Linked DNA regions of Homo sapiens. The protein of the gene in region 2 binds, or shares a complex with, the protein of the main gene of each other region. Each region holds a gene or a part of one and is shown on either strand. Other genes may lie near its edges.

Region 1 (15,720 bases), on a different chromosome or scaffold from region 2:
AATATCCTAGACTCGGCTTTGCCCCACCAACTTTTTAAATAGCAAGATTAATCCAACTGTACTCTCAATTTTGCCTGGCCAATTCTTCAGGACCCACTCCCTCGCCATCTGTGAAGGGTTTCACTGGGGGCCAATTCAAGACCTGGCCACCTTTCAACCTCACATTCTGCTGCTCATGAGCCCCCCTCACAGGGGCGCATTCACTATGAGTTTCAGTTGAAGAACCCAGCCTTTGAGGATCTAGATGCAGGTTTCCTGGTAGAAAGATCTACATCAATGCTCACAAAAGCCAGGCAAACTGGTACCAACCAGTCAGATCAGCACTGTGTTTGGCCTAATTTCAGCTCCAGATGGAGCCTCCTGCAGGACTGGTGGGAGTTCTGATTCTGCAACTTCAGCAAGTGGTTCTTGAGGCTGGCTCATCTTGTGTGTGTGACGAATCTCCAGTTACTAAGGTAACCTTCGCTATCAACTTCTCGCACTGTACTTTTTCCAAAATAACTCCAAGAGGTTCCCTCATGTGCACAAGGAAATTTATACAAAGATATTCATTGCAGCACTGCTCACAGTAGAAAAAAAACTGAAAGCAACCTAAATGCCCATTAGTAGAGGAATGCTTTAAATAAACTATGAAATACTATGCAGCAGTCCAAAAGAACAAGGCAGGGCTGTATGTGCTGATGTGGATGGACCTCCAAAACATGCTGATGGGTGGGGGAAAAAAGCAAGTATGGTACCATTTTTATGTTTTAAAAAAGAAAAAAAGGGGGGAAAAAGGACTAATTTTATGGCATCATATACATGATGCGCACATATATACATACAGATATGTATATATACATATACATGCATACATGCATAGAAAAGCTTTTACAACGGTTGATACTGGCCACTGTGGAAGGGAAGAGAATGAAATGGAAGGTAAACGGGATAACAGACTTTTATGTAAAACTTTCTGCCCCCTTTTTAAGGAGAATATATGCATGTATCATTTATAAAATGAACAAAAAAAACTTTTTGAAAGTAAAAAAGCAAGTAGCAAAACAATTTTTAAAAATAATGCCAAATGGAATGTGCAAGGCCTTCAAGATACAATGGCCCGGAAACAAACGAGAACTAAAAAAAAAAAATAAAAGAGCAATGACTTTCTCCTGTCGATGTGGCAAAATGGGAGCGGGCGCCACGGAGAACAGAAGGGGAGGCTCGGTACCTTTCACAGCCTGTCTGGTCTGATATCTCGTCCCCTGGGAAGACTGAGGCTGCTGCTGCTGGTTTTGCTGCTGCTGCTGCTGCTGCTGACGCTGCATCTTCTGCATGTGCCACTTTTGGGAGGACGTTTGAAACTTACTTGATGAGTTCCACACGACCCGCTGCACGGCCGGGGCAGTCTCCTTCGGTAAAAGCGGCCTCTGCTTTTTCACTGGGCTTCCTGTGGCGGCGGGGGCCGGGGCCGTGACGGTGACCGTGGAGGACGTGCTGGTGGTGGCTGTGGCGCCAGCCGCGGAAGTTTGGGCGGAAGAGCGGGTGAGCACCGGTGTTTCCGGGGGAGAATGGCTGCCCACCGTCGTGGATGGTGGAGTTTTACCTACAACTAGCCAATGCATGAAGAAAAAACAAACAAAAACCGGATTTCACTCAGGTTCACCTGCACGGTCTTGACGCCACCAAGTTCTGGGTAAAACCTATGAAAGCCAGGAATGCCGAACCAATTCGACGTGCCAAGCACACCGCGCTGGAGGAGTACATTCTCACCTAACGCTGAGGCCACTTCTGCGGCGTCTTCCATCTCCGCGAGCAGCGGCCTCCTTTACTGAGCGCCGGCCCACATCTGAGATACAAGTCAAGACCTCTAGGGGAGAATGAGGCAAACAAGACCCGGCTCCTGCGCTCAAGCTCCCCTACACCTAGTGGACAATGCGGTGGGCGAACAGATTCAATGTTCACGCCCTTTTCGCAAAGTTAAAATCTAGTCGGCACCTTGAGAAGGGCCCAGCGGAAGTCAATCCAGACAGGAAGAGCAATTCTTTGGCTAGGGAACGTAGAAAGCAATACCTCCAAAGAGCCAGATGGCCTCCCAATGGCCAAAGCAGTAACACTCAGTCACCCAGAAAGAAAAGTATTCTTTTCATCTCTTCTGATTCCCTCCAGGACAAAGTTTGAAGGCGGTACTGATAGCCAGGACAATACCAGGAAAACAAATTCTGCCCCAAGGCCAGAACCTTCCCCCAACGCAATGGTACTGATCTAGGATTGAGTAGCATTGCTTTGGTTTTGATTGGATTTATTCCTATCACCAGCTTTTATGTATACTGTGTGCTACTGTTCTTATTGGGTGGTGTTCAAGTCTAAAATGAGTTTATACTTGCAGATGCTTTTTTCAGGGGAAATTTTTTTACTAAAAAAATGAGGCCAAGCACGGTGGCTCACGCCTGTAATCCCAGCACTTCGGGAGGCTGAGGCAGGCGGATCACTTGAGGTCAGGATTTTGAGACCAGCCTGACCAACATGGGGAAACCCCGTCTCTATTAAAAATACAAAAAAATTAGCCAGACGTGGTGGGAAACTGAGGCAGGAGAATTCCTTGAACCCAGGAGGCGGAAGTTGCAGTGAGCCGAGATCGCGCCACTGCACTCCGGTCTGTGAGAAAGAGTGAGTGAGACTCCGTCTCAAAAAATATTACTAATAGGCCGGGCGCAGTGGCTCACGCCTGTAATCCCAACACTTTAGGAGGCTGAGGTGGGCGGATCACTTGTGGTCAGGAGTTCAAGAGCAGCCTGGCCAACATAGTGAAACCCCGTCTCTACCGAAAATACAAAAATAGCCGGGTGCGGTGGCAGGCGCCTGTAGTCCCAGCTACTCAAGAGGCTGAGGCAGAAGAATCGCTTGAACCCGGGACGTGGAGGTTGCAGGGAGCCGAGACCATGCCATTGCACTCCAGCCTGGGTGACAGGGTGAGACTCCGTCTCAAAATAATAATAATAATAAATGAAAAGTAAATAAAATGAGTTTATTTTATTTATTTATTGAGATGGATTCTCACTCTGTCACCCAGGGTGGAGTGCAGTGGCACAAACTTGGCTCACTGCAACCTCCGCCCTCTGAGTTCAAGCGATTCTCCTGCCTCAGCCTCCCGACTACGTGGGATTACAGGCGCCTGCCACCGCACCCAGCTAATTTTTTTTATTTTCAGCAGAGACGGGGTTTCGCCATCTTGCCCAGGCTGGTCTTGAACTCCTGACCTCATGATCCATCCGCCTTGGCCTCCTAAAGTGCTGGAATTACAGGCGTGAGCCAACGTGCCCGGCCTATTTTATTTTATGTTTTAAAGAGATAGAGTTTTGCTATATCACCCCGGCTGGGCTCAAGCAAGCCACTTCAGCCTCCCGAATAGCTGGGACTACACGGGACGTGCTACTGTGTCCCGCTTTAAATGAGCTTAATTTTATTTTTAAAGAATGAGATTCTTGGCCGGGTGCAGTGGCTCACGCCTGTAATCCCAGCACTTTGGGAGGCCGAGGCGGGCAGATCACGAAGTCAGGAGTTCGAAACCAGTCTGGCCAACATGGTGAAACCCCATCTCTACTAAAGATACAAAAAATTAGCCGGGCATGGTGGTGTGTGCCTATAATCCCAGCTACTTGGGAGGCTGAGGCAGGAGAATCGCTTGAACCCATGAGGCAGAGGTTGCAGTGAGCCGAAATCGCCCCATTGCACTCCAGCCTGGGTGACAGGGCGAGACTCCGTCTCAAAAAAAAAAAAAAAAAAAAGATTCTTTAAATAAAAAAAGTCAAAAATTATACAAGCAGGACTTGAGAACGGGAAAGACAATGAATGTGAATGACTCAAGTTTGAAAAACGCTGCCATATGGAGTATGTCATCTTGGAGGAGCTGGGCTGGTGGGGAATAAAGGGTAGGATTTCAACAGGCGGAAAGTGAGAATCTGGAGGGAACAGCATCAGCCAAGATATGTCTAGGAATACAGAGCATTTGAGTAAGTGAGGGCAGGCAGGGAGGAGGGGCTGGAAGGGAGGTTAGAGCCAGAAGCACTGAGCAGCACGTAGAGGCGATGACCACACGGGAGCTCATTTGTAAAGGTGGCTCAGTTATGGATGCACAGGCCTCAGCCCCCGGTAAGGTGAGCCTATGCCCCAGAGAGGATATCTGGGGAACACACACCACACCCAGGTACAAGCCAGCACCCCGATCTTGGACTATGCTCCCTGACATCAAACTCCTTTAAATAAGGATTATGTCTGCCTCTTTTTCTTTTCTTTTTTTTTTTTTTTTGAGATGGAGTCTTGCTCTGTCACCCAGGCTGGAGTGCAGTGGCGCGATCTCGGCTCACTGCAAGCTCCGCCTCCTGGGTTCACACCATTCTCCTGCCTTAGCCTCCCGAGTAGCTGGGACTACAGGTGCCCGCCACCATGCCCAGCTCATTTTTTGTATTCTCAGTAGAGGCGGGGTTTCACTGTGTTAGCCAGGATGGTCTCAATCTCCTGACCTTGTGATCCACCCGCCTCGGCCTCCCAAAGTGCTGGGATTACAGGCGTGAGCCGCTGCGCCCGGCCTATGTCTGTCTTTTTAAGATCAGTATTACCCAGAAAAAGACATGAGCCTGATTACTCCAGCAAGGATTTTCATTCAGTAAGCTGTGGGTTTTAAGAAGCCAAGGAGGGAAAGAGACAAGCTGACTATCCCGACTTCAGAGGGCGTTCTCGATGGTTATCGAGATGTTGCTGGCCCTTGTACTTCCCCAGAGAGGAGAATCCAGCCAAGCTGGTCAGCAAGAGCCTGGGGTGGGTCTGGAAGGAGAGCTTCCTGCAGTGAAGAACTCCGATGCTTCCAGGGCCACCTGCCAGATATGGGGCACAGTCCCCGCCTCTTCCAGGTGGAGATGAGGTGTTGAACTGGGCCCTTCTAAGAGGAGGGCAGGGGGCAGTGCCTTAGCAGAGCTTCTAACCCACGTAAGTGCCTTCAATGCCTTCCTTTCCTGCCACATTACCAAAAAATATACTGTTATTGTTGATGAGCTAGCCTGTCTCCCCACCGTAAGGGCAACCGCAAAATGGTCGTTTTCTCTCTCCTGATTTGCAAAAGCAAACAGCCAGCAGGGCGGAGGGGTTACTGCTCTGCAGTGATCACAGCTGGCTCTCTGCCAAATAAAGAACTAGAGTATACAATCCGATAAGATTCCAGGCTCAAAATTGTTTGAAGTTATTTAGATATCAAAATATTTAAATTTCCAGGAATCCTGATGGTTTATGGAGACAAAATGAGGCTACAGGAAATTTCATTTGTCCCAGAAATCTGGAGTACATAATCAATCACCTGTAGCGGGAAAAAAAGGGTGAATTTTTTTTTAAAGGGTCAGCACCTGAGAAGCTGCCCTATCAAATTAACCTACTTAATTCCTGAATTTGTCACTGGTCACTGTTTTTCATTTATAAAGCAAGGACTTTTTAAGAGAAAAATTAGCATCCCCTTTGTAGAAGGATGGAAATTACTGATGTGCCAGTGAAAGCACAGCGAAGAGTCTAAGTGTGCTCTCTTTGCTTCTGTTCTGAGGTTATTAGCTATAAAAGCTGTTTTGCCATCTGAAGATTCATATTCTACCCATAAGCTGCATCCCTAGTGGAAGGTAAGCTGGAGGTCACAACAGCGCAATCCAAAATGCCCTTCACTTACTAAACTCTTAAGTGAAAACACATCATTGAAAAGATGCTCTCTAGCGGAGTCTGACACGAGAATTTTTCAAGACCCAAACCACCATCAGCTCTGAATTTAAGATCAATTGGTTTTGCCCCAAGCCTTAGGAAGCTGCTCTAACTGAACTGTGTTTTAGAATCATCTTCAGCTTAATTGTCCACCATCTACTAAAGCTTCCTGGAGAAATTCCCTTCAGACATCAATGTGAGGAAAAGTTCTACTTCTTTTAATCAACTAGAATGGTTTTTTGTTTTTTTGGAAAGTATGAGATCTTCTAAGGTACTGTGTTTCCCATTCTGCTTTCAGAGCCAACTTCCCTAACTCTGAAGATTGAAATAGTACAGATTTCTGTATAAAACCTTTCCCCAGACCACTTGCTATTCTACCTTCATTTTCCTTTTACATGGATGTCTTTATTTTCATCTTGTTTCATATGGTTATGTATCCTTGTCAATCTGTTGCAAATTCTTTCTGGAAGAGGTAGGGGCACAAAACCAATCAATCAAAAGATCTGTTCCAGAAAGAAAGAACAGTATAAATATGTCACTCATAGGAGCACTGCCATCTGCACCCAAATATTCCTACGATCCTCATGAAATAAATGCTACTCCTATTGTTCTCTGCAACAACAGAGACAGTCTCTCAAAACCCAATCCATAACATACTCATATTTTTCAGAGGCCATCTATAAATCTAACAGATGGGTCGGGATGGTTTGATGGCCTATCCTCCCTCCCTTATGTAACTGTATCTCTCTCTTCCTCCACTGTACCTCTCACAGACATTCTCTTTAGCTGAACTGCAGGAATCCTCTCTCACTCTGACAGCTGAGGTTCCAGAGCAGCCCAGGTTGACCATAACCACAGCAGAAAGATTCTCAAGGCCCATCCCTGACTTGCTTTAAGCCACCAGACAATGGAAACCCCAAAGGACATGGAGTTACATCTTATTCAAGGGTTTCATTGACAAGTTAGCTCCTGATAGAAGTTAGGCACAGTCAAGATTTAAACCTGGCTATCCCTTAAGTCACTCGCCACATACATAAGGTTTTATGGCTACAACCTGTAATTTGTCCTGGGGCAATGTTTCTTCTGGGCCCTTAGTTAATTCTTCAGTATCTTTATTGAGCATGTTGAATCCTCTAACCTAATTGCCAAGCCAACTCAAAAATGTGCTGAATACTTTGTCAGTGGGAAGGACATCCTTCCAATCATTCCCACACCCCTTTTGTTGGGCTTGTTAACATGCCCAGGCTGCACTAGGCTGTGGGGTAGTCACTGCTGGTTCAGAATATAACCGTAGCCTCTGAGACTCAGGGGATATTTGGCAATATTTGATTGCCACATTTGTGACTGCCACAACTGAGCAAGTAAGGTTGCCATCTGGCTGGTAGAGGCCAGGGATGCTGGAAAACATCCTCCAATACACAGGACTAAGAATTAGCCAGGGCAAACTGTCAGAAGTGCAAGGTTGTGAAACTCTGAGCTAAGTTAAATGCAAATAAGATTAAAAGCCAGTAAGGCCAGACGCAGTAGCTCATGCCTGTAATCCCAGCACTTTAGGAGGCCGAGCTGGGTGGCTCACCTGAGGTCAGGAGTTTGAGACCAGCCTGGCCAACATGGTGAAACCCTGTTTCTACTAAAAATACAAAAATTAGCCAGGCGTGGTGGCAGGTGCCTGTAATCCCAGTTACTTGGGAGGCTGAGGGAGGAGAATCACTTGAACCCGGGAGGCGGAGGTTGCAGTCAGCCGAGATTGTACCATTGTACTCCAGCCTGGGCGACAAGAGCCAAATTCTGTCCGCCCCCCCTCCCCAAAAAAGCCAATACACATATCCACCATACTCCATTTTCTAGTGCCCTAAGAAGCACTCAGTATTCTGGCACCAATCACCCAAATACTGTCCTACTACTGTAAGAAAATACACTTGGAGATGCCTAGGTGGCATGAGGGGAGGAAAGCAAAGCTGAAATCATCAAAACCTTTGAAATGAACACTGCTTTTTTTTTAGAGAGGGAGTCTTGCTCTGCCACCCACACTGGAGTGCAGTGGCGCAATCTCAGCTCACTGCAACCTCCGCCTCCTGGGTTCAAGCGATTATCCTGCCTCCGCCTCACGAGTAGCTGGGATTACAGGCGCCTGCTACCACGCCCCGCTAATTTTTGTATTTTAGTAGAGACAGGGTTTCACTATGTAGGTCAAGCTGGTTTTGAACTCCTGACCTCAAATGATCCACCCGCCTCGGCCTCCCCAAGTGCTGGGATTACAGGCGTGAGCCACCATGCCCAGCTTGAAATGAACACTCCTAACCGTTTGAGACTTGTCAAAAGAGAATGAGATGTCTGTGGAATGCAGCACTGAAGGACCATTTGACAAGATCCAAATGTTAACAAACACTTTGGGGAAATAAATGAGCATATTGGAAAAGAAGCTGCTCAGACTAAAAATGACTTGGTCACTAAAAGTAACCATCATTTTCTAACAGACTTCTCTTTCTGTACTCAAAATCAATCATACTGGATACCGAGCAGGTTAAAGGTAGGCAGGCCCATGTTTGAGTCCAGGTCCTGTTCTATGACTAGCTAGGCAACCTTAAACCAAACACAGCTTCACTGTGCCTCTCTCTCAGTGTGTTAGAGGGTCACATAACTTCTGATTTGTTTCTTTAAGGGTCACATAACTTTTGATAGTAAGTGTACGAGGTAGGATTCTAAACCAAATTAAGAAAACTGGAAACAGATACAATCACTTACCATCCTGTTTGGGAGATGGTTCTTTGGGTTCCTTCTTATTTTTTCGACCCTCCCGCCCAGAATGGTCTTCTCCTAAATCTATGACAAGTTCGCTCTCTGAATCAGAGTCCAGGCCCAAATGGACTGTTGGGGAATCCGTCTCATCTTTTCCCTTCAGTTTATCCTTTATGGGGTGAGGTGAAGGTTTTGCCTTTTCGGAAAAGTCCTTCTCAGGCTCAGGGCTGGCCTTGTCCTTGACTGCTCCAGGGTCTGCCTTCTCGCTGGCTGGTGACGTGCTTTTCAGCTCCTCTTTAATCTCCACTGGGTTTGTAGGCTTGGGCTTTTTTTTAACAGCAGATGGCTCTTTGTCCATCTGACAACCTTCTTTGTCCTCTGTGTCTTCTGGCTCGTTCTTAGACTTCTGCTCATCATCACTGATATACTCACTATCGCTACTATCTGACTTCTCAGAATCCTCCGAATCGCTGTGCTCTACGGCCGTATAGACATCTTCCGAGATTTCATTTATGCCTAAATTCAAAAAGAAAACCCAGCATGTGGCGTAGTCACAAAATAAAGAGCAGGATGAAAAATGCAAACATTTTTCCACACCAAATGCTGGAATAAGAAAAGCACGTTTCAAATCGCATCACATTGGCCTAAATGGGGCCAGTAATAATCTCAAGTGGCAACTGGCTACGGCTGCCAAGTGGTACTTGCCTTGGGAGAGGGTTTTGGTTGTTAGGAGACACAGGACCTACCAACGGAGATTTTAAATTTATATGGCACTAAACATGTGGTGCCAAATTTTTGCAACGTTGATAACTAATTGGGATTATTGAGAATGAAGAGGGCTGGAAGGGAACAGCAGGGACAAGCTGTTCAAACTGATCCAATTTACAGATTAGAAAACAGAGGCCCAGGGATATCACCTGCCCTAGGACACAAGACAGAGGCCAGGCCAGAACCCCGGGTTCCTGGCTCCCCACCAACACTCTTCCCTTGGGTTTCCAAAGGGTTAAAGTTCTTGATCCTTTGTGTCTAGGCCAAAGAAAATAAGCCAAAGCCTTAAAGCAGAGGTTGCAAACAGCCCACAAGCCACATCTAGCTTGCAGACATGTTTCATGCGAGAGGCACTGGTTTGGCCCACAGGGTATCTTGTCTGCTTTTAATTTATAAATGTGTTGTCCAACTCACAAATCAGGAAATTTCATATAGAAATCAAAGCAGGGGCTTCTGATGAAAGAGCGGAAAATCTAGCCGCTCTGGGTCACCAGCCTGCCAGGCATTGGCTGGAACAGGAAAGCCACTGGCTCCTCTAGGCGGGGGACACACTTGTCTCCAGGTGACCCGGGTGCCCAGCCCTCCCTCTTGTTCCCTGCACTCGTGGAAAGTCAACTGCCACTCGGTGTGCATTGCTCTTCCACTGGTAAAGGAGTCAAGAGAGAAGTCACATACTTCTGTCTCTTTCAAAAGGAAGAAGCACAAACTAGCAGGTGTTTCATACACACAAACAAAAATGGGCAGAAGCACATTTCTAACAATAGTTCCATTTAACCCATTTACGGCTCCTGCCCCCAACCATATGTTATGCCATCATACTGTAGATAATAATACCATATCCTAAACTTTTAGAAAGAGGAAAGAAAACCCAATCAAGTCTGTGCAATCTCTTCATTCTAGAGCAATGGCCACTGTGAATGGTGCCACTGTCCGACTTGTATACACCAAAAAGAAACCTGCAAAAATACCAGAGCCATGAACAGCCCGGGGCATGGGGGATCAGCTGGATCATTGGGGAATGTATCTGCCTCCACCAGGGCTCAATCAAAAACACAAGTCGAGCCAGGCATGGTGGTGCACACCTGTGGTCCCAGCTACTCAGGAGGCTGAGGCAGAAGAACTGCTTGAACCCAGGAGTTCAAGGCTAGCCAGGGCAACACAGGAAGAACACAAGCCAAAATACAAACACCCAGATCTGGTATAATTCTGGGATCCTAGGCTTGTGCTACTGGTAGGTAATGATTGGAAACAAGAAGGAAAAGTGTAAGCACATATGTGATAGGAAAAGCTTGGGTACTGCAGTCCAAAGGACATGAATTCAAATCCTGCTTTTCTGTTTTTATTACTGGTGTGACCCTGAACAAGTTATTTATCTCTCTGAGCCTCAGTTTCTCTATCCGCAAAATGGGACTGATAAAAGTATCAACCTCCCAAGACAATCTATATGCAGTGCTTAGCATAGTGTCCAAGGAAACACTCAGTAAATGGAAATAATAAAATTCTTATTAGCAATAAAAACAAATCAAGAGTTGGGCCAGCTGCATGGAAGGACCCAAGAGGATTATTTAAATGGCATGCCAAATTTCACCCATGCCACCCAATGTCCTCACCAAACAGGCAACCCAACGGGAGCTGTTGTCCTCTGGATAGCCCCAGATGGGTCCCTAACTCTAGCTGCTTTCTCACCTGAAGATGCAGAGCACCCACTGACACTCAGAGGAGCTTGCTCTCCAGAGGCCCAGCCATCCCCCACTTCTTTACAAATGCCCTCCTAGCTTTACTTACTTATTCAACAAACATTCCAGAGCATCTACCATGTGCACAGACCAAGTACCATAGAGAAGGCAAATCCTCATAAAACGGCCTCCCTGCCCTCAAGGAGCTTCCAGTCTAGATTGGGAGGGACACCCCCACACAAAGGGACCATTGCTACTTCCGAGCAATGAAGTACCAAAGGAGGAGGGCAGATGGGGAGGGCAGTCAGGGGAGACTTCCTGGAGGAGGTGAGATCTGAGCTCAGCCTCACAGAAGGCAGGATTCAGGTAGGCAGTGTGAAGGCAGGCAGCACAGGGAAGAGGAAGAAAGGCAACAGCTACAGAAGCAGGGTTTGCCCGGTGGGGAGGAGACCAGTCTGGAGGGAAAGGGTTTCGTGTCGGACACCTACAGAACACACTCACTACTCGTGTGGAGACACTGATGCGTACTGAGGAGAGCAGAGGCAAAACTCAGAGGATCCTCATTCTGCTTGCAAACCTTGATGATTCAAACCTGTATCTCGAGTTTCCAGACTGCTTTCACCAAAGAATAAACTGATGAGTTCAAAAAGCCCTGAATTAACTAGCAAGTCTGAAGTCTTTTGCCATGAGTGGAAATATATTTTAGCTGAGCAAATAGTTGAAAGTTAAAGCAGCTGCTAAAAGCAGCCAGGATTCAACCTTGATTTCATCCAGGTGGTATCCCTACCAGTAATGATAACAATGATACTGCTGGAAAAAAAAAACAAAACCAAAGGTATACCTAATTGTGCTTTGCAACTCTCTATGGTCTTGTCAAGATTCAGCTGGAACCTGCTACGAATCTGGCGCTTGGGAGAGATGAGAGGAACAGGGGTGGACTGTTGCTGGACCGACTCGCTCAGCTCCTTCAAATCCATCTCAGCTTTGCTTCGATCTGAAAGAAACCATCACACCCTCGTAAGATCAGGCACACACCATCCTCATCACGGAGCTTCGTCCTTGCAAAGTCAGAGCAAAACACACATTTTAGAACATGGGGGAGGGGGAGATACTTTTTTTGTCATTCATCCCAACAATATCATCTGCTCAACCAAATGGGGTGACATGAAGATAATGGCCCACGTGAACACGTTTGGCAGGTTTAAACAGTCCACTGAACAATCGTCTGGGTGACTTTCAATATTTAAAATGGACAATCCCAGCCAGATGGCTCAGTGTGTGGAAGTCAACATCATTAGGGACCCTCCAAAGACAAAGGTTATGGGCAGATATTCAATCTCAATTTCAGTGAACAAAGCAACACTGAGCCTGGTCAAGGTGTACTTGTAACTTCAGGTCCAGATTGAAGAGGACTTGTATCCAAGAAAGATGGCGACCCCCTCGAAAACACCCTGATAATTGGGGGCCCTAAATGCCTATTTGCCACAGAGGCTTCATTTTTCATTCTCAGTGGACCTAGTCTGGGGTGGAAACTAGAAAGGGCAGGGAATATAAGATAGGCAGACCTTCCAGCCAGTGTGTTGTGGCTCACAGCATCTATGTGAGGCAAGGGGAACAGATTAGCCCTGGATACTCAACCTCTGTCTAACAGGTCTCGCTCAAGTAAGAGTCCAAGGTCCTCAGCCTAGTTCCCAGGCAGAGGCCTCTGGGGGGTGACTCAGGCCGGAGGTCCTGTCCCCTCACTTCTTCGAGGGCTCTTTGTAGGACCAGCAGGACAGATTCCAAAGTCAGTGAGCTTACATTTCTTGGATTCCTCTCCCACCGACTCCAGTGCCCCCAAAATATTAAGAGTTTCAGTGGCTGCAAAGGTCCAGAAAGCAACAAGCAACTCTGCAGGTGGGGCCTACTGTCCTCCACTGTGCCTGCCACCCTCTGGCATCCCCTCCAACCCACCCAAAGCGAGTGTGAGGCATCTGTCCTACTCCGGCCGATCCCAAAAAATAAGTCAGAAAGCAGGTGGAATCCAATCAACCCACAAAGAGGAGAAGCCACCTCTGAGCCTGTTCCCAACAGCTATCAGGTTGCTCCCTGGACTTCGTGCTTCATCTCCCTGCTCCCTCCATACCTCAGGCCACCTCCATTCATTGGGCTGTGAAAGAGGCCCCAGAATCTAGTCTGAGAGCTGGGCTGGAAGCACTGTTTAAAGCCATCACTCTCTCCTACCTTTTTCCTTTGGCCTGACCCAACCACTTTCCTGTTCATGCAGTAAGGGAGAGTTCTCAAACACTGCATACCCAGAAATCAGCTCCTTCAAAGTAACTAGAAGCAGCCTCCCAAAAGCCCCACCCAATCCACTCACAGGTGACCAGAAGCAATAAATTGCTCCAACTTAATTTTATCAGCCCCCAGGATAAGATTAGAAAGAGGTCTTTTCCCAGCCAGGTGTGGTGGAATGCACCTGTAGTCCCAGCTACTCAGGAGGCTGAGGCAGGAGAATGGCTTGAGCCAGGAGTTAGTGGCTGTACTGAGCTATGATCACGCCACTGCACTCTAGACTGGGAGACAGAGCAAGACTTTTTTTTTTTGAAGGAAAAAAAAGGAGGGAAGAGATGGGTCTTTTCCTAAATCACACTTACAGACTGCCCCTCCCAGACCCAGGGAGATTCCAGAAGTGAGTGCTCAAAGCAAGCAGAGACACTATCCCTGTAATTCAAGAAAAATAGCAAAAACAGTATCTGTGTGCATGCATGTGTGTGTGCACACTTATCAGGGCTTTAAAGACAGGCTACTAGAGACAGGACTGCAGACATTCACACAGCCACCTCTGAGAGGGTGAAGAATGTGCAAATTTACTGCAGTGGGGCCAGGCACAGTGATTCACACCTCTCCCAGCACTTTCGGAGGCAGAGGCAGGAGGATTGCTTGAGGCCAGGAGTTCGAGACCAGGCTGGGCAACATAGCAAGACCCCCATCTCTACAAAAAATACAAAAAGTAGCTGGGCTTGGTGGTGCACGCCTGTAAACCTAGCTACTTGGGAGGCCGAAGTAGGAGGACTGCTTGAGCCCAGGAGTTTGAGGCTGCAGTGAGCCATGATTGCGTCACTGCACTCCAGCCTGGGTGAGCAAGATCCTGTCTCCAAAAAAAAAAAAAATTTACTGGACAAAGAACTAGAAAACTCTTTATACCCGTCTCTGTCCGGCAAGAAATCTGAAGTAGCTTAACAAAGAGAAATTATAGGGTAAAATAATTTTAAAAATAAGGAATGGGGAACACTAAAAGAAAAGGGAGGAGCGCCTCTGCCCAGTCGCCCCACCATCTGGGAAGCAAGGAGTGCATCTCTGCCCGGCCGCCGCACCGTCTGGGAAGTGAGGAGCGCCTCTGCCCCGCCCCGCACCATCTGGGAAGTGAGGAGCACCTCTGTCTGGCCGCCATGCAAGCCTCCAGGTGTAAAGTGGCAGCCTTGTGTGTGATCTTTCTGCCCTCCCCGAGTTTGCATTTTTGACACTAAAGTTTACTTTTAAATTAAAAGTTTATTTAAAAAAAAAAAGAAAGAAAGAAAAGAGAAATGCCGGGCGCAGCAGTTCACGCCTGTAATCCAGCACTGTGGAAGGCCAAGGCGGGAGGATCACTTGAGGTCGGGGGTTCAAGATCCGCCTGGCTAACATGGTGAAATCCCGTCTCTACTAAAAATAAAAAAATTAGCCAGGCATGGTGGTGGGTGCCTGTAATCCCCGGTACTCAGGAGGCTGAGGCAGGAGAACACTTGAACCCAGGAGGCGAAGGTTGCAGTGAGCGAGATCGCACCACTACACTCCAGCCTGGGCGACAGAGCAAGACTCTGTCTCAAAAAAAAAAAAAAAAAAAAAAAGCCCAGATTAAAGAGTTCCAGTAGGCAGGACTCAAGGACTTAACAGCTGAGTTGCATGCAAATGTGACAGCAAAGGGGGAGGGATTTGAGGCCTCCCTCGGAATTTCCACTTTCAGAAATGAAGAAGCATGCTAGATTCCAGAGGGAAAAGCCAGCCTTTTCAAGAATAAAGATGGAAACGTATACTCACAAAAATACTCTCCATGGCTACCCAAGTGACACATTCATCAGTGTCCTCAATATTCCTATATACTACTAGAATACACAGTTAACGAAAAAATTTACAAAAGAGACCAACAAACTTTCTTTGTAAAAGCCTGGAGAGGACCGGGAACAGTGGCTCACACTTGTAATCCCTGCAATTGGGAGGCTGAGGTGGGCAGTTCCCTTGAGCTCACATTTGAGACCAGCCTGGGCAACATGGTGAAACCCTGTCTCTACTAAAAATATGAAAATTAGCCAGGCATGGTGGCACACGCCTGTAATCCCAGCTACTCAGGAGGCTAAGGTGGGAGGATCGCTTGAGCCCAGGAGGCAGAGGTTGCAGTGAGCCGAGATCAGGCCACTGCACTCCAGACTGGGCAAAAGAGCCAGACCTTATCTCAAAAAATAAAATAAAAGCCCAGAGAGTAAATATTTCAGGCTTTGCAGGCCATACAGGCTCTGTTGCAAAAGCAGCCATGAACACTACATAAACAGATGGGTGTGGATGTGTTCCAGTAAACTTTATTTGCAAACACAGGTGGGGGCCAGATTTGGCCTGAAAGCCGTAAAATCTGCCATCTTCTATACTAGTCCAGTGACTGCCAACCCTGGCTGCACACCAAAATTGCCTGTAAAGTTTTAGAAAATCCTGAGGCCTGAGCCCCATCCTCAGAGACTCTGACTCAATTGGCTGAGGGGAAGGCCTGGGCATCAGCCTTTTACAAACTTGCCAGGAGGTCGAGCGCAGT
Region 2 (15,864 bases):
CTGGAAGAACTCCGCCACCTTAGCCACGTGGCTGGCACAAGCGCACTTGCGGGCATCAGGCACATCTTCGCCCACCTGCAAAGTACCCAGCAAAGAGGGGGTCAGGAAAGGACAAGGGGGGCCCTACACGATAGGGTGCATCTTCCCCGGGGTGGGAAGAGGGTGGGCTTCCCTCTCCACGGGTGTCAGAGGGCCGACGGGGAGGGCGACTGCTCTGGGCCTTCAGTTCCCTTCCCCAGCCCCGGCCGCATACCCAGTTGATGAGCAGCTCTGGGCCCTCAGCCCCCTTCCCCAGCCCCGGCCGCATACCCAGTTGATGAGCAGCTCTGGGCCCTCAGCCCCCTTCCCCAGCCCCGGCCGCATACCCAGTTGATGAGCACGTATTTTGGCAGAGCAGCTTGGGAGTCCTTGACACTGCAGAAGCCGTACATCACCTTCTGGTTCTCAAAGTGTCCCGAAAGCTCCTGCAAGCCCCCTTCTAGGGTAATCAGGAGAGTGTCAGGTCTCTCTGCCTCCTAAACCCTTCCCAAAAAGAGCCTGGAACTCAAAGCAAAGACTCCTCCAGGCCTCCACAGGCACCCCCAGGGGTCTTCTGGCCTCTGGGGTCTGTGGGTCCCAGTTTTGTGTTGGTATGTGTGGGGGTGGTGGCGCACAGGGATGTAGCTTTGCCTGTGACTCCTGCAGGGCCTGATTTGGGGGTAGGACTGAGGAAGTGTTTGTTCTTCACACTCAGGTCTCATTCTTCACACATCATCATGTCTCACCAGGTGCCAGTGCCCAGAGGCACAATCAAGCCTTCTGGCTCTGGGGAAGGCGGTGAATAGGGCCCTTCCCCCAAAGTGTCCCAGCTGTGTGGCTTCAGATAAGTCACTTTCCCTGTTGGAGGCTCAGCCTCAGAAGTCCAACATTCAACAAGGCTCTGAGATTCCTCCCCACCCTGGGGACACAGGGATGACTGGAGGAAGGACACCCGCCAGATCCAGACAAGTGTGGGGCTGCAGGGTGCAGGCAGGGAGGTGGCCTACAGCCAGGTGGGTGGGGAAGAAAACAACCAGGAGGAGGGGGTGGAGAAGGCGGCGAGGGAATGGCTGGAATTCCTACCTCCTGATGCTGCAAGCTTGAGGTCATCGGAGCCATCTTCATATGTGTACAGAGCCCTGGGGAGAGGGAGGGGTGGCTGTCAAACTGTCAGGGCCCAGGCCGCCAATTCTGGGTGGGGACGGCTCTGGGGAGGGAGAGGGACATGGAGTGGGTAGGACAGGAACGGGGAGGGCTCCTGCTGTAGCCATGACAACAGGGCCAGGCATCGGTTCAGGCGGGAGCCCAGCAGGGTACTGCTGGAGGCCTGGGTCAGGGGGGCGCAGGCAGTGAGGGGAGAAATTGCTGGCTGGTCGAGCTCAGTGCGCAGCATCCCGGCCCTGGCCCTGGCAGCCTACAACCCAGTGGAGCGGGTGTGTGATGGAGATTCCAAGGCGACGGTTCCTTGGTTACCGTTCCCTGGCTACCAGGATCCTCATCCCCCATTGGCTAGTGCCAGGAACTTACCTGGCACGTGCCTTGGTCCCCGCTGCCCCTCCCCCGGGGAGGGAGGAGGAGAAGAGAGAACCTGGTGCTCCCAACAGCTCTGGGCATCCCCCAGTAACCATGGCAACCCTGCAATTGGCACACGACTGGCCCACCCCAACTGCATTCTCCTTGAACACAAAGGACCCTGGGGACCCGCCCTCAGCCTCAATCTCCGCCTCTCTGAAATGGGGATGAGGTCACTGCAGTCACTCTCGCCCAGACTCTGGCCCCGGGGTGGCCAAGCCTGAGCTCCAGGCCTTCCAGCCCCTAGGCTGCCTCAGTCCTGGCTGAGGCTTCCTGAGACTGCTGGCCTTTCCTTCTGTCTGAGCTCTAACAGAAAGCTGACCTGGTGGCCTTCCTCCTTCCTCCTCCTCCCTAGCTTTGTGTGCCCTGGCTCCTTTTGATAGGCTGCGGTGACAGAGCAACCATTGCACAGAAGGGAAGGCAGAGATGCCTCCTCCATCACCCCATGCAGGCCCAGGCTGAGGACCCTCTGGGAGGGAGGAGAGCCGGGGCCTAGGAGGAAGGGCCTTGTCCCTGAAGTTTGAAAGGGCTCTCAACCCCTTCTCCAAACTCCTATTCCCCAGGTGCCAAGGCAGGAGGCTGGGGCTGTGAGGAGGGGAGGCAGAAAGGGAGGGCAAGGGAGAAGAGAAAGAGGAGGGGAGAAGCAGAGGGAGAAACCAGGAGAGGAGGAAGAAGAGAAAGGACAGAAGTGAAGGGACAAAGGAAATGAAGGCGGGAGGGATGGAGGGGACGTCTCAGGAGGTTGTGGCCAGGGCCAAATGGCCTCAGCCCCTCCCCTTCCTGGATTCCCGGCTTCCTACCTCCAGGAAGGAACACAGGTGGGCTGTGGGGCTGGGAGCTCCTGGTCCAACTGTTACCCCCAGCCCCAGCCTGGCCCTGACAGATGCTTCCAGCACAGCTGGCCCACCACCTGTCCTGCTGCCCTAACCCACCACGGGAACAAAGGGCCCTGGGAGAAGCAGGCTCTGTCTCTCTCCATGCACTGATGAGAAACTAATGCAGAGCCCAGGGACCCTAGTTCCTAGAGACTGCTGTAGACATCAAGCCTCCCTCTGAGAGGACCTGTCTTGGCCTGCCTAGGCTCCCCGGGGTGCCTTCCATCCTCAGCCCCTGGCTCCCCACCTCCGGCCACCTCTTCCTGCTCCAGCCGCAGCTCTCCCCCAGCAGAAACCATACCCCAGTTCAAACCCTCCAGCCTGCCTTTCCATTGGACCACCCTGTCCACACCACACACTTGGGACACACTGGACGGCTCCCTGACCCAAGCAGGGTTCTGGACAGGGCTCACCCTGAAGCCTCTGCCTATGTAGTTCTCTTCACGTGGAAGGCAAGACCTGCTCCTCTACCCCACGCCTATTCCCAGTGGAATGCTTCCGTTCTTCAGAGCCCAGTGCTGGCCCCCAGCAGCCTCTCCTGAGCTGCCCCTCCCAGAGCACCCACCATATCCCAGCAGGAATACAAAGACCAGTGCTTCTCAACCACATCAGAGGCACCCCGAGCCTGGTGGTGCACCAGGTGGAAGCTGGCGAAACCACAGGGAATCAGGATGGGGTAGGCGACCAGGCATCTACACATCTCACCAGCTCCAACTCCTGGAGACAGACACTGCCCCCAGCTGTAAGCCTGGTGAAGGCAGGAACGCTGACTCAGTCAATCAGCACATCCTGCTCTCTGGGTCCTGGGGTCCAGCACACCGCATACCAGAAGTATGTGTGATATTGACACCAACTCAAAAGCCATCTAGCCAGATAAACTGAACTAGCGTGAGGTGGGAGCTGGAATGTGGCAGTTCCAGAGACCCTGGGGTGAGCTGGGATGGGGGGTGAGCTGGGGTGGAGGGTGAGCTGGAGTCGGGGGCTGAGGGCAGGTGGACCCCGCAGGACCATCACTCTCAGGATGGTGGTGCTAGAAAGGCCTTCAGTATCCGAGGTAGTGCTGGGCCCAATCCCTTTTCTTTCCAAGAGGACCAGGAACTTGTGTATGATCACAGTGAGTCATATCACAACCAGGACAACAGTGGCCCTTCCCACCACACAACCTCATTTCCTGGGTCCCCTGCTCCCTGTGCCAGAGTAGTGGTGCACTTCAGAGGCCCTGCCACCTAGGAGTGAACTCCCCCAACCACCCCTCCCCATTGGAGGCAAGGTAAGGGTCGGGGGGCAGACAGCAATTTACCCAAGACACCCCTCCCTCTGGACCTATGTGCAGGGTCTGCCTCTGAGTCTTCAGACCTCACTGCACCCCTGGTTCCATGCTGGGCCCTGGGGTATTCATATTCTCTTGTGTAGAAAGTGATCCTCACACCCCTTTTTCAAAATGTTATCTGGGCCCTTAGTGAACGAATGTGTGCATGTGCGAGGGTACATGTGTGCATCTGTGTGTGTCCCACACACAACCCAGATGGGGGCTGACGCACACCAGTGATGAATAACTCGCTTTGGCCACACGGATGCTGCTGGGGTGGGTGGGGGCAGGCCTGTGTTGAGCAGGATGTGGGGCAACAGGGGTTGTGTGGCCTTGGCAATAGGCCACCAGAGCTCTGCTTTTAGGAGAAAATGGGGTGTTGGTAGACAACACCCCTCCAGGCTGGAGGGCAAAGGAGGTGTTCTGGGGTGAGCTGTGCTTCTCCCCAGGCGGGGCCTTATCCCAAAGCCAGCTCCTTCACCAGGCCAAGCCGGCCACTTGCCCAGAGCTCCTCCCATGATCTCAGCCCCCCTGGGGCAGGGCTGGGACAATGGGTGGGCCGCCTGCCTGCTGAGCCTGTGCCGGCCTCTCCTGTGACTGACCTGCAGGACACGAGAGCTTGTCTCTCGCGTCCATCCCTCCAGGCCTGGCTGCTGGCCAGTGCTGCAGTACCATGCCATGGATGCCCAGCCATCTCATCCTCTCCTCCAGAAGCCCCCAGGTCAGAGTCCCCACCTGGCTGCCCTCCCAGTGTGCGGGTGAGGCCAGCCCAAGCGGGGTCCCTCAGACCTGCCCTCCTCTTTGCCTCAGTTTCCTCAAGAAGAACCTGTTCCCATCTGCCAGCAGGGAGAGGAGGCCTAGGAACCAGATGGGCACCTTCCCTAGAAGAAGAGTATTACGGGGGGGTTAAAGGATTCCAGGATGGGGCTGTGAGGAACCCCTCGGTTTCCTTTTTCCACCACCCTGGGCCGCCAGCCCCAGAGCAGGTGGTCCATCCCCTCCCCCAGCTCAGCGGGAGACAACAGCTGGGGGGCGGGGTGAGGGGCGGCCCAGCTCCTCCCCCATCAGGGACCGAGTGCCCCTTGCTGGGGGCCGGTGGATCTGTTCACCCCTTCAGCCGTCTTTGGGGGCTCCCTCCACACTTGTTCTCCAGAGGGCTTCCTCCCAGGGATCTCAGCTGGCCCCTTAGGCAGCTCGGTGCCCCCCAGCCCAGCTGCCTAGTCCCCGCAGTCCCCTTCAGGTAGGGGAGGAGAGCTCACCCCTGCCTCCTCCGCGACCCGCGGCGGTAAGGGAGTCACTTCGCGGTCGCCATGTGGCAGCAAACATCCTTCCACCTCACTCCAGCCCAGGTTTCGGGGGGAGGGCGGCCCACTCCGAGAGGCCCCCCGGTGGGCGGGGCGCCCGGCCCCCAGCCCGCTCCGCTCCTCCCCCGCCCTCGCTTTCCTTTGTGCTGTGGCCGGGCCGGGCTGAGCCGGGCAGGCTGCGCTGGCTCCGCTAGCTCGGTCCCCGCCCCGTCCCCGCCCGGACCTCGCCCGCTCGAAGGTGGCGAAGGTGCCCTTGGCCGCCCCGTGCACACCTGTCCCCCGGGCCCGGGGGGTAGGGTGGGGGATGGGCTCCCGCAGGGCCACGCGGCCCCGGGCCCCACATCGGGACCCCGCGCCTCCGGGCCGCGTCCGGCCGCCGCTCCCACCGCGCGCCTTGGGCCGCCTCCGGGCGCTCGGGGCCCGGCAGTGCCCCGCCTGGCCCGCCGGCCCCTCCCCCGGCGCGCACAAAGGCAGCCCCTCCCGGCCCTCCCGGCCCGCTGCACCATTTCGGGGTCCCCCTCCCTTCCCGGCGGCGGGGCGGCGGGGCGGGAGAGAAACAAAGGCGCGGCGGCGGCGCGGGGACAAAGGGGCCGGGGGCGGGGGCGGGGGGCTCACCAGTCGGCCGCGCTCTCCTCTCGGATCACCTCCTCGTAAGCCGCCAGCAGCTCCAGGCGGTGGCCGCTGAAGCTGACGCCGGCCATGCTTCGGGCCGGACCGGGCCGAACGGACAGACGCGCGGACGGACGGGCGGACGGAGGAGGAGGGAGGGAAAGAGGGAGTCGCCGCCGCCGCCTCGGAGCCTCTGCAGCGTCGCGAGCCGAGCGAGCCAGCGGCCGGGGGAGGGGAGCCGGCCGGCGGGGGGCGGGGGGCGCTGGCTCCGCCCGGCTCGCTCCCTCCGCTCGCTCGGTCCTAGCGCCGCCCCGGCCCGGCCCAGGGGGAGGCCCGCCCCCCCTTCCCGGCCTGCCCCGGGCGCCCCTCACCCACCGCCCCTGCGCGCCGCTCCAGGGCCAGCCCCACCCACGTCCCGAACCCTCACCTGCCCCGTCCGTAACCTCGGCGCTAGCCCTCCTTCCAGCCCCGAACCCAGTCCCGTCCCCACCTCCCCCCGCCCACCCCCCGTCCCAATCCGGTTCCGCCCCACCCATTGCTTCATTGATCTCCATTCCTGGTGCGTCCCACCTCATGTTAAACCCATTTTCATCCCAACCCAGCTCACACAACACCCCACCCCTGGCCCGTCTCCTTTCCCTGAGAGGTCCTTGCCTAGTCTATCCCATCATATCCACTGTCATCTGCATCCCACCCTCAAATCCACCCCAGTTGCTTTCCCATCCCAGCTTCAGCCCCATGCTTAGCACGTGTCCCCCCCAACATGTGTCACGGCACATCTTCAGTCCAACCCATCCCAGTCTCATCCTGATCCCAGTTCCCAATTCCCAACCACAGCCCCCCATCTCGGCTCCATGACCACTTATTCCAGGCCATTCTCAGCCCCTACCCAGCTCATTATCCCTCCATTCCAGGCCTCTCCTCCCCTCCACGCCTGTGCCCTCTCAGATGGGGCCAGCTAGGAGATCCTTTGCATTCTCTCTCAAGCCTCACGCCTCCCAGAGGAGTCCCAAGTAGAGTTCCGGAAGCAGCATCTAACCCCAGACTCCCACGGCAGGGCTCCTCCAAGGACGCTCAGGGCCAGCCTCTTGGCACCTTTATCTCCTAAAGCTCTAAGCACAGAACGGGAGGGGGCCTCAGAAAAGTACCCCCTGCAAGGGAGTGGACACCATGCCAGGGCCTTCCAGAACTCCGTTCCTTGCTAGGTTGGGACCCTGAAACCGTCCACAGCGCTTAGAAGCCTTTTCCACCACTACAAAGCCTCCAACCTCGACCTCCCTGAGCAAACTTCACCTGGTCCCAACCGCACCGCGGAGGAGGAGGTGGTTCTAGCCAGGCCTCCGAGTTCTGCGTTGGGTAATTGGCTATGCCAAGAGAAGGAGAGCAGGGCTGCCTATGTGGCAGTGTTCCTGGCGCTTTGGAGTTGGGAGAACCCTCTTAAAACTCAAAATACTCACAGGCCCCTGCCTTGGGAAGTCAGTGCCCACTATGTCTAGGGACCACAGGCCATGGCAATTTCTCCATGGCCACCACTAGAGTGAGGCACCCAGGCAGGGACACAGCCAGGCCCTGTGCCCTAGACCAACTGGCCAGTAGGTGTGGTTGGCCTGCCATGGGGATCCCTAAGGGAGTGGGTGACACATGGTGGGGAAGGGAAGTGGGGAGAGCCATGGAGGGACAGAGCTTCAGCCATCCCCCACCCTTAGGCATGAAGAGCCTGATTCTGGTGAGGAGGGAGACCCTGCAGCCGGGGAGGGGCAGCAGATGGCTGGCCATGAGCATCTGTGGCCTCAGCCTCTTCCAGCTTCCTTTGATTTGTCCTAGCTCACAGCTCCTCGCCCCCCCCGCTCCCCTCACCCCCCAGCCTCCTGCACACTCAATTTTGCATCCAAAAAACAGAAGCCCTAAATGCATCTAAGCTCTTCCTTCCTCAAATTCCTGCCTCCCCACCAGCCACCTACAAACTCTCCAGCCACGCCCACTCTCACCTCTTGCCATCAACATTTTTAAATAAACTTTCTATTTTAGAACAGTGTTAGATTTACAGAAAAGTTACAAAGATAGTATAGAGAGTTCCCATACACCCTGCACTCAGTTTTCCCTATTTTCAGGGAAGCAAGGGTGTTCCCTGCTGGCATGCCCTAGAGCCCACTCCCCTGGTCTCCGCACCCGTCACCCTTCCAGGTTATCTTCATCCCCTCATTTCTATAGGATGCAGACAGACATCTGTCCTCTGTCTCCTCCTCCCCGCATTTTCTCTGGCACTGCTCTGGCCAAGGTCACCAGTAACCCCTAACTTGCCAAACTCAGTGGACCCATAGTTCTCAGTTGCCCTGACTGGTGGGAGTGGGTGGCCACTGGTCACTGTCCTCTGAGAACCTGCCTCCTTTCAGCTGCTGTTGCCCCTGAAGCCCACACACTCAGCCTTGGTGGGTGGGAGGCTGGTGGGTTCCTCCTACCAGGACTTCGTGTCTGCCACCCCCAAACCGATCACCCTTCAAGTCACTGACAGGTCGGTCTCTCCCACCCCCAGAGCATGAGCTCCCCCTACACACAGCGGGAGGCTGGGCCAATGACTTCTGGATCCCCAGAGTGGAAAAGATGAGACAAGGGAGGACTGAGATCCAGAAACTGGGCCTTTGCTGTGTGACCTTGGCTGAAACACTTCCCCTCTCTGAGTTTCCTTTTGATAACCTGTTGTGAGAATAAAATGGGACTGGATGGAGGCTTAGAAGGAGAACCCCCTCCCTCCCTCCCTCCTCACAGCCCCACCCTCCTCCCTCCACCCCCACCTTCCTGTTCTGTGCTCCCCCACACCTCTCCGGGAAGGTTTTAGGGCTGAGGGGAGGCTGCAAGACTTTTTCAGCAAGAGCTGGTGGAGTCTTCTCTGGCCTCTTCCAACCTCTGCAAGATCCCACCAAGCACACACACAGATTGCCCCTTGATCATCACAAAGCTCATGGCTGTTCCCAGGTATCTGCCCCCGGCGCCGGGCCAGCCACGTTCATTCACATTAGCTCTGCTCCTGAGGAGTCTATTGCTAATGGTGTGACCTTGAGCTTGGTGCCTGACCTATCTTGAATCACTCATCTTCAACTGTAATATGGGGGTGATAGTGATGGTACCTACCTCCTAGGGTCAGTTTGAGGATTTTCAAAAAGTATCTAGGAAGTGCTTAAAATGAGACCAGGACATAGTAGGTGCTGTCAATGTGTTGATTGTTATTATTAGTTTACAGATGGGAATACTGAGGCCCAGAGAGAGTCAGTGACTTGCCCGGAGACACACAGCTTTGTGTCCCATTCAGACACAAAGTCTGAATGGGAACCCAGGTCTGTCCCAGGTCATTTCGGTACCCCACACACCCTCCCCGCTTCCCCTTGTAGCACCCCTATTTCTGCATGCAGGGGTGAGGTGGGCTGGAGTCTGATCAGAAGTTGCAGATGCTCCAGCTCTGAGGTCTGGGAGTGGAGTCGGGGGCGGGGCCCTGGGCATGAGGGGAGGAAGTGCCATGGACCTCCCTGCCAGGCCTGCTCCGCCTCCCGTTTTCTGGCAGACTTTCCACTTTCAGCTCTAAACAGGAGTATGTCGTCCAAGCCAGGAAGGGTCAGACCCAGTGACTACTTCAGAGACAGACACATGACCCAAGTTAGTCCAATGGGCGTTGGCCCTCGGACTTTCGCTGGCGCCATTAAGAAAGCCTCCCTTGCCGGGAGCGGTGGCTCACGCCTGCAATCCCAGCACTTTGGGAGGCCGAGGCGAGCAGATCACGAGGTCAAGAGCTCAAGATCATCCTGGCCAACATGGTGAAACCCTGTCTCTACTAAAAATACAAAAATTAGCTGGGCCTGGTGTTGCATGCTTGTAGTCCCAGCTACTCAGGAGGCTGAGGCAGGAGAAACGCTTGAATCCGGGAGGCGGAGGTTGCAGTGGGCTGAGATCACACCACTGCACTCCAGCCTGGGCCACAGGGCGAGACGCCATCTCAAAATAAATAAATAAATAAAAAATAAAAGAAAAAAGAAAAGAAAGGCTCCCTCTGTCCGCTGGGGCTGCTGAGCTGGCCAGGTATGGGCCTGGAGCTGCTGGGGGCCATCCTTGCCAACAGTGGGGAGAGCCTTCTGAGAATGAAGCCAGCATTGAGGACAGCAGAGCCGAGAGGTGGAGAGCATGAGAGAGGGTCCCGGTAGCCGCCATGGGTACCTGGATCCAGCCAGGTCTGAAGCCATTCACTTTTTCAGTTCAATTATCCCCGTTTTTGCTTACACTAGCTTGAATTGCAGCTGAGAGGCCTACCTAATCTGCCTCGTACCCAAGTAGTGGTCATTTTGTCAGTGGCAAGAAACTTGGGTGAAATCTCAGTTGATCTTCCAGTACTCCAAAAACCTGAGCGGGAGGGCCCAGGCTGGTCCTGGGGTCCTCACTGGCTCAGAAGTGGCTCCCCCCGCACAATCTCCCAAGTGGCTGGTGCTGGTGTCCTGAGTTCCCCCAGGCTGTCAGTCAGCGAGCTTGTTCTTGTTCCACCATGACCCCCGGAACCCTGGTCCCCTCCCCTCCTTCCTTTAAGGCCTCCGTTGGGAGGGGTTCTTCTTCCAGTCTCAGGGTCAGCTTTGGATTTAGGCAGTCTCAAGTTCAAAGGGCGACCTGTGGCCAGCCCTTTAGCCCAGGGCCTCAGCTCCCTTCCTGTGGCAGGGCCACCTGGAGAGTCTGAGGATGGTGTGTGTACCTTATGTGTGTACCAAGGCCATGTGGGGCCCTGCACTGAGGAGGCAGTGGCAGAATCATGAGGGCCTGCCTCTGTACTCTGGCAAAACAGTTCCTCGCCCTCCACCGCCTCTCTCCCTGCTGATCCAAATGAGCTCAAGCCATTCTGAGCTGGGAAAAACCCCTCCCTTGCCTGCTGCCTCTCCAGTTACCCACTCAGCCCCCTGCCATGGGCTCTGCCCCCTCCAAGGGTGCTAATGGCCTCTCCTGCCTGGCACGAAGACATTTACTTCCCGGTCCCCATGGCCTCCCCCCGCACAGCCTTGCACCCCAGCTTCGGAACACTGTGATCTTTGCAGCTTGTGGTTGCTATTATTATTTTTTTGAGACGGAGTCTCACTCTGTCACCCAGGCTGGAGTGCAGTGGCGCAATCTCAGCGCACCACAACCTCCACCTCCTGGGTTCAAGCAATTCTCCTGCCACAGCCTCCTGAGTAGCTGGGATTACAGGCGCCCGCCACCACGCCTGGCTAATTTTTGTATTTTTAGTAGAGATGAGGTTTCACCATGTTGGCCAGGCTGGTCTTGAACTCCTGACCTCAGGTGATCCACCCATCTCGGCCTTCCAAAGTGCTGGGATTACAGGTGTAAGCCACTGTGCCCAGCTGCTATTATTTGACAGATGGGGAAACCAAGGCTCAAAGAAGGGTTGTGTCTTGCCCGGAGGCACACAGCTGGTGGAGCGGCAAAGTCTGGATGGGAGCCCAGGTGATGGGGGACGCATGAGAGGAGCTGGGGAGTGCTGGTGGGTCAGCAGGGAACACTTTGGCCTTTGATCCTTGGAGTGGCAGTCCAGGCCATTCCATCTGGGTGACTCTGTACAAGTCACTGATCCTCTCTGAGCCTCAGTACCCTCATCTGAAACATGCCTGTAATAATGTGTTCTCAAAGGTGTTATGATGATTAAATGACATGTGATTGCATCATGTTTCCGGCCTACGGAGTGAGGGTGGCTGTTTCAAGGAGGTGCCTGGCACCTGCTCCTGCCCCACTCTAGGCCAGCTCCAGCTCCACGGTTCTGCATTTGCCCCTGCCCTTCACCCCACTCTCTCCTTACGGCCCCCTCCCAACTTCTCCCATCTTCTCCCACCATCCTCCAGCAGATGCCTCCCAGGCCTCTCCCGCCACCCACACCCTGGCCTCTCAGCTGAGCTTGGCGGTCATCTTGGCCCACCACAGCCAAACCTCTTAAAAGAGCTGTCTGCACTCTCTCCTTCCACATCCTCCCCACCCTCCCGCCTTGTTCCTCTTTAACCCTGGCAGCCGCCCCAGCTCGGCTAAACTGATCTGGCAAATGTCACCTTGTTGTGAAATGCCACGAGGGACTCCTCGGCCTTATCTGCCTGGTTGACATTGTCGGCAGCTTCTTGACACGCTCTTGCCCTGTCCAGGCTTCCTTGCCCCTTCCCTGGAGGTTGTTGTCCTCCTGCCCTGGCCGTGCTGTTCCTGCCCAGTGCTGTGATGCTGGTGTTCCGGCGTCTCACCTCCTCACTATGCTGGGCCCTGGCCGTCCTCATGCTGGATTTGGCCCACATTTGTTATTTTTCTAATAGGATTAAAAAAAAAATCTAATGTAGTTGCCAATATTCAAACACCAGATCTCACATACAAATCTGAACCTCTGGACGCTGTCGATAAACTGGCAGATCTGGCCGTGCTGCTCGGCGTTCCCAGACGGGCTCCCGGCTACAGTTACCATCCGTCCCTGTGCCCTTCTCGCTTGTATCCATGGGAACCGAGGACGGACGGAGAGGGCTTCACAGTTCAAGAGAAGTGGGAGAGAGCACATTTCCTTGTGGAAGTGAAAGCTACTCTGTGGTTAACATGCCAAGGATGTCCAGGTTGAAAGAAAACCACATCCCATCTGCTTGACCCCTGATGCTCCCTGCGTGGGCCCTGCTCCTGGCTCTCCCTAGGCCTCAGTGACCAGCATTTATGTTGACTGCCCTGAGCCTGTCTCAAATTCATTCCCGAATTGAAGTGGAGGTGAATCCAGACTTGAATCTTCAGCTGTTTCCTGAATGTGTCTCCTAAATGTCCCACAGGTGCCTCGTGATCATTCAACAAACACTTACTGGGCATCCACTATATGCCAGGCACTGACATAAAGTCACTCCGGCAAGGCATCATGAAAATAACACGAGGCTGGGTGCGGTGGCTCATGCCTGTAATCCCAGCACTTTGGGAGGCCGAGGCAGGCAGAAAAAAAAAAAAAACATGAAAATCACACACGAAGCTTTGCACTCATTCTCCAGGATTCCAAGAGAGAACACAGCAGAGACCCTTCTTGTCTCTCTCTCCCTTTTTTTTTTTTTTAAAAAAGAGACAGGGTTTCGCTTTGTTGCTCAGGCTGGAGGGCAGCTTACTGCTGCCTCAACCTCCTGGGCTCAAGTGATCCTCCCACCTCAGCCTCCCAAGTAGCTGAGACCACAAGAATGCACCACTAGGCCCAGCTGAATTTTTTTTTTTTTTTTTTGAGACAGTCTTGCTTTGTTGCCCGGGCTGGAGTGTAGTGGCGCAGTCTTGGCTCACTGCAACCTCTGTCTCCTGGGTTCCAGGGATTCTCCTGCCTCAGCCTTCTGAGTGGCTGGGATTACAGGCATGCACCACCACACCCGGCTAATTTTTGTATTTTTAGTAGAGACGGGGTTTCACCATGTTGGCCAGGCTGGTCTCAAACTACTGACCTCAGGTGATCTGCCCACCTCGGCCTCCCAAAGTGCCAGGATTACAGGTGTGAGCCACCACGCCTGGCCACATATATATATATATATATTTTTTTTTTTTTTTTTTTTTTTTTTTTTGAGACAGAGTCTCACTCTATTCCCCAGGCTGGAGTGCAGTGGCACGATCTCAAGCTCACTGTAACCTCAGCCTCCTGGGTTTAAGCGATTCTCCTGCCTCAGCCTCCCGAGTAGCTGAGATTACAGGCGTGTGCCACCATGCCTGGCTAATTTTTGTATTTTTAGTAGAGACAGGGCTTTATCGTGTTGGCCAGGCTGGTCTGGAACTCCTGACCTCAGGCGATCTGTCTGCCTTGACCTCCCAAAGTGCCGGGATTACAGGCGTGAACCAACGCGCCCAGCCCTGGCCTCTAATGTTTTAATATTTTGTAGAAACTGGGTCTCACCAGGCCGGGCGCAGCGGTTCACACCTGTAATCCCAGCATTTTGGGAGGCTGAGGCGGGCGGATCATGAGGTCAGGAGATCGAGACCATCCTGGCTAACATGGTGAAACCTTGTCTCTACTAACATACAAAAAAATTAGCTGGGCGTGGTGGCGCAAGCCTGTAGTCCCAGCTACTTGGGAGGCTGAGGCAGGGGAATCGCTTGAACCTGGGAGCTGGAGGTTACAGTGAGCTGAGATTGCACCACTGCACTCCAGCCTGGGCGACAGAGCAAGACTCCATCTCAAAAAAACAAAAAACAAAACAAAACAGGGTCTCACCATGTTGCCCAGGCTGGTCCTGAACTCCTAAGCTGGAGCCCTTCTCCAGCCTCAGCCTTCCAAAGTGCTGGGATTAGAGGTGTGAGTCACCGTGCCCAGCCCTTCTCGTCTCTTAAAGGGGACCGGGCCAAGGGCCTGTTGAGAAGACTAACAGATGTGTTGCAGGTCCTCATGCCAGGGACCACTGAAGGACGGGCAGCCATGGCACACTGAGCTGTCCTGGCCTACTTAAGGCTTCTCTTCAGTCTTTCCAGTCCAGGCTTGGGACAGGAGAGATGACAGTCCCTCTAGGGTGGTGCGGGCATCAGTGGGAGGCAGGAAGCCCCAGAGTGACGGCGCCACCACCAAGGTCTACAGTCCTCCAGGTACCGGGCAGAAGTCAGCTTCCCAGAGAGATGCTCGCTGGCAAATGGTACTCAGTGCCAGCCAGTCCTGGGACAGCGCACCCAGCTTCAGGCCTGGATTCTAGTCTGGCTCATGGCTCAATGACAGCGTGACCTTGGTCAAGTCTCCCAATCTTTCTGTGCCTCATCTAGAAAATAAGTGGGCCAGGCATGGTGGCTCACACCTGTAATGCCAGCACTTTGGGGCTAAGGAGGAAGAATTGCTTGAGCCCAGGAGTTTGAAACCAGCCCGGGCAACCTAGGGAGATCCTGTCTCTTAAAAACAAAAAAAATTAAAGTTAAAAAAGAAAAAATGAAATAAGTGATTGCAGACAACGGCGCAAGGTTGCTAGGAGGTTCGCGGGAGACAGCGTGAGCATGTCTGGTATAGGCCAGATGCCTGGCAACGCTCCTGTCCTTCTCTCCATCCCTCATCCCCCGGACCTGCCACTGGGTCCCATCTCTGCCATATTACTCTCTGCCCCTCCCTTGCCTGGCCCCCGCCCCTAGGCCCTGCTGCAACTCCTCCTCCCAGCCTCCCTCCTGCACTCCCTCAGTGTTCTGGGGCCTCTTTTCTGCAATACAACACAAACCTATTTCAAACTCTGCTGTGCCTTGCCCTGCCCTAACCTCAAGAGACAGCCCCAGCTCTACTGCCTGGCACTCGTGGCTTCCCAGGACCTAAGGGCTACCCTCTCCAGCCCTGCCTTCTTCTGTTTGGACGGCAGCTGGCCCCTCCAGGACTTTGCTGTGGCCATTGCTGTTTTCCACACCGTATCTCTGCAGATCCACCCCCAACTACAACTACCCTTCTTTTTTTTTTTTTTTTTTTTTTTTTGAAGCAGGGTCTCGCTCTGCCATCTGCCACCCAGGCTCGCGCGCAGTGGTGTGATCTCAGCTCACTGCAACCTCCACTTCCCAGGTTCAAGTGATTTTCCCGCCTCAGCCTCCTGAGTGGCTGGGATTACAGGCATGCCCCACCACACTCGGCTAATTTTTGTATTTTTACTAGAGACGCTGTTTCACCGTGTTGGCCATGAGGTCTCGAACTCCTGACCTCAAGCGATCTGCCCACCTTGGCCTTCCAAAGTGCTGGGATCACAGGCATGAGCCACCATGCTAACTACCCTTCCTAACTACCCTTCTCTAACCTCCAAGCCAGGCCAGACCAGTGGCTCCCCTCATGTCTGTGGGCACCGGGCCTGGCACATGGGGTCTCGCCTGTACCTCCTCCACTAACCATGAGCCCGCCATGTCTGCATCACGAGGACCACCCAGATGGCCAGCCCAAGAAAACCATCTTACTCTCCACCCTGCCACGTGCCTCAAATTCTGCCCCTCCGGATGCACAGGGGAAGGGCACACAAGACACAGCTGGGTACAGGTTTATTGTGGCACTGGAGGTGAAAGGGGGCTGGTGTGGCCAGCACCGGTGTGCTGTGGTGGTGGAGGGAGTGGGGTGGGAGGATAAGGTGGGTGGGGCAGGGCCCAGGGAGCCCCAGGCTCGGGCCAGGAGCCAGGGTTAAGGCAACCATTGCCAGCCCTACCCAGAAATGCAGGGCCACGACTCCAGGCCCCTCAG

The links.
Region 1: the proteins of DBN1 (region 2) and ZMYND8 are in contact, whole or in part, in a crystal structure (PDB 5Y1Z), measured with the Homo sapiens proteins. Residues at the interface, in NP_004386.3 of Homo sapiens: Met1, Ala2, Phe6, Ser7, Arg10, Leu11, Leu14, Tyr17, Glu18, Asp92, Ala93, Cys96, Ala97, Ala99, Ser100, Lys104, Glu107, Phe108, Gln110; in NP_001350670.1 of Homo sapiens: Gln167, Pro168, Gly169, Thr170, Gln236, Ile237, Val240, Lys243, Ile244, His247, Trp269, Leu285, Gly287, Phe288, Phe307, Gly309, Gln310, His311, Asp312, Ala314, Thr335, Lys336, Ser337, Ile338.

Annotation. Positions count from the first base shown.
Region 1 is NC_000020.11:47,237,548-47,253,267, forward strand, and holds part of ZMYND8 (MYND-type zinc finger-containing chromatin reader ZMYND8), read right to left. Parts: intron 11,893-15,720; coding exon 11,740-11,892; intron 8,971-11,739; coding exon 8,461-8,970; intron 1,592-8,460; coding exon 1,211-1,591; intron 1-1,210. UniProt on the Homo sapiens protein: Chromatin reader that recognizes dual histone modifications such as histone H3.1 dimethylated at 'Lys-36' and histone H4 acetylated at 'Lys-16' (H3.1K36me2-H4K16ac) and histone H3 methylated at 'Lys-4' and histone H4 acetylated at 'Lys-14' (H3K4me1-H3K14ac).
Region 2 is NC_000005.10:177,467,743-177,483,606, forward strand, and holds the start of DBN1 (drebrin), read right to left. Parts: upstream 5,893-15,864; 5' UTR 5,780-5,892; coding exon 5,694-5,779; intron 5,099-5,693; exon of another isoform or gene 5,034-5,098; intron 4,756-5,033; exon of another isoform or gene 4,469-4,755; coding exon of another isoform or gene 4,377-4,468; intron 1,158-4,376; coding exon 1,102-1,157; intron 479-1,101; coding exon 366-478; intron 76-365; coding exon 1-75. UniProt on the Homo sapiens protein: Actin cytoskeleton-organizing protein that plays a role in the formation of cell projections. Required for actin polymerization at immunological synapses (IS) and for the recruitment of the chemokine receptor CXCR4 to IS.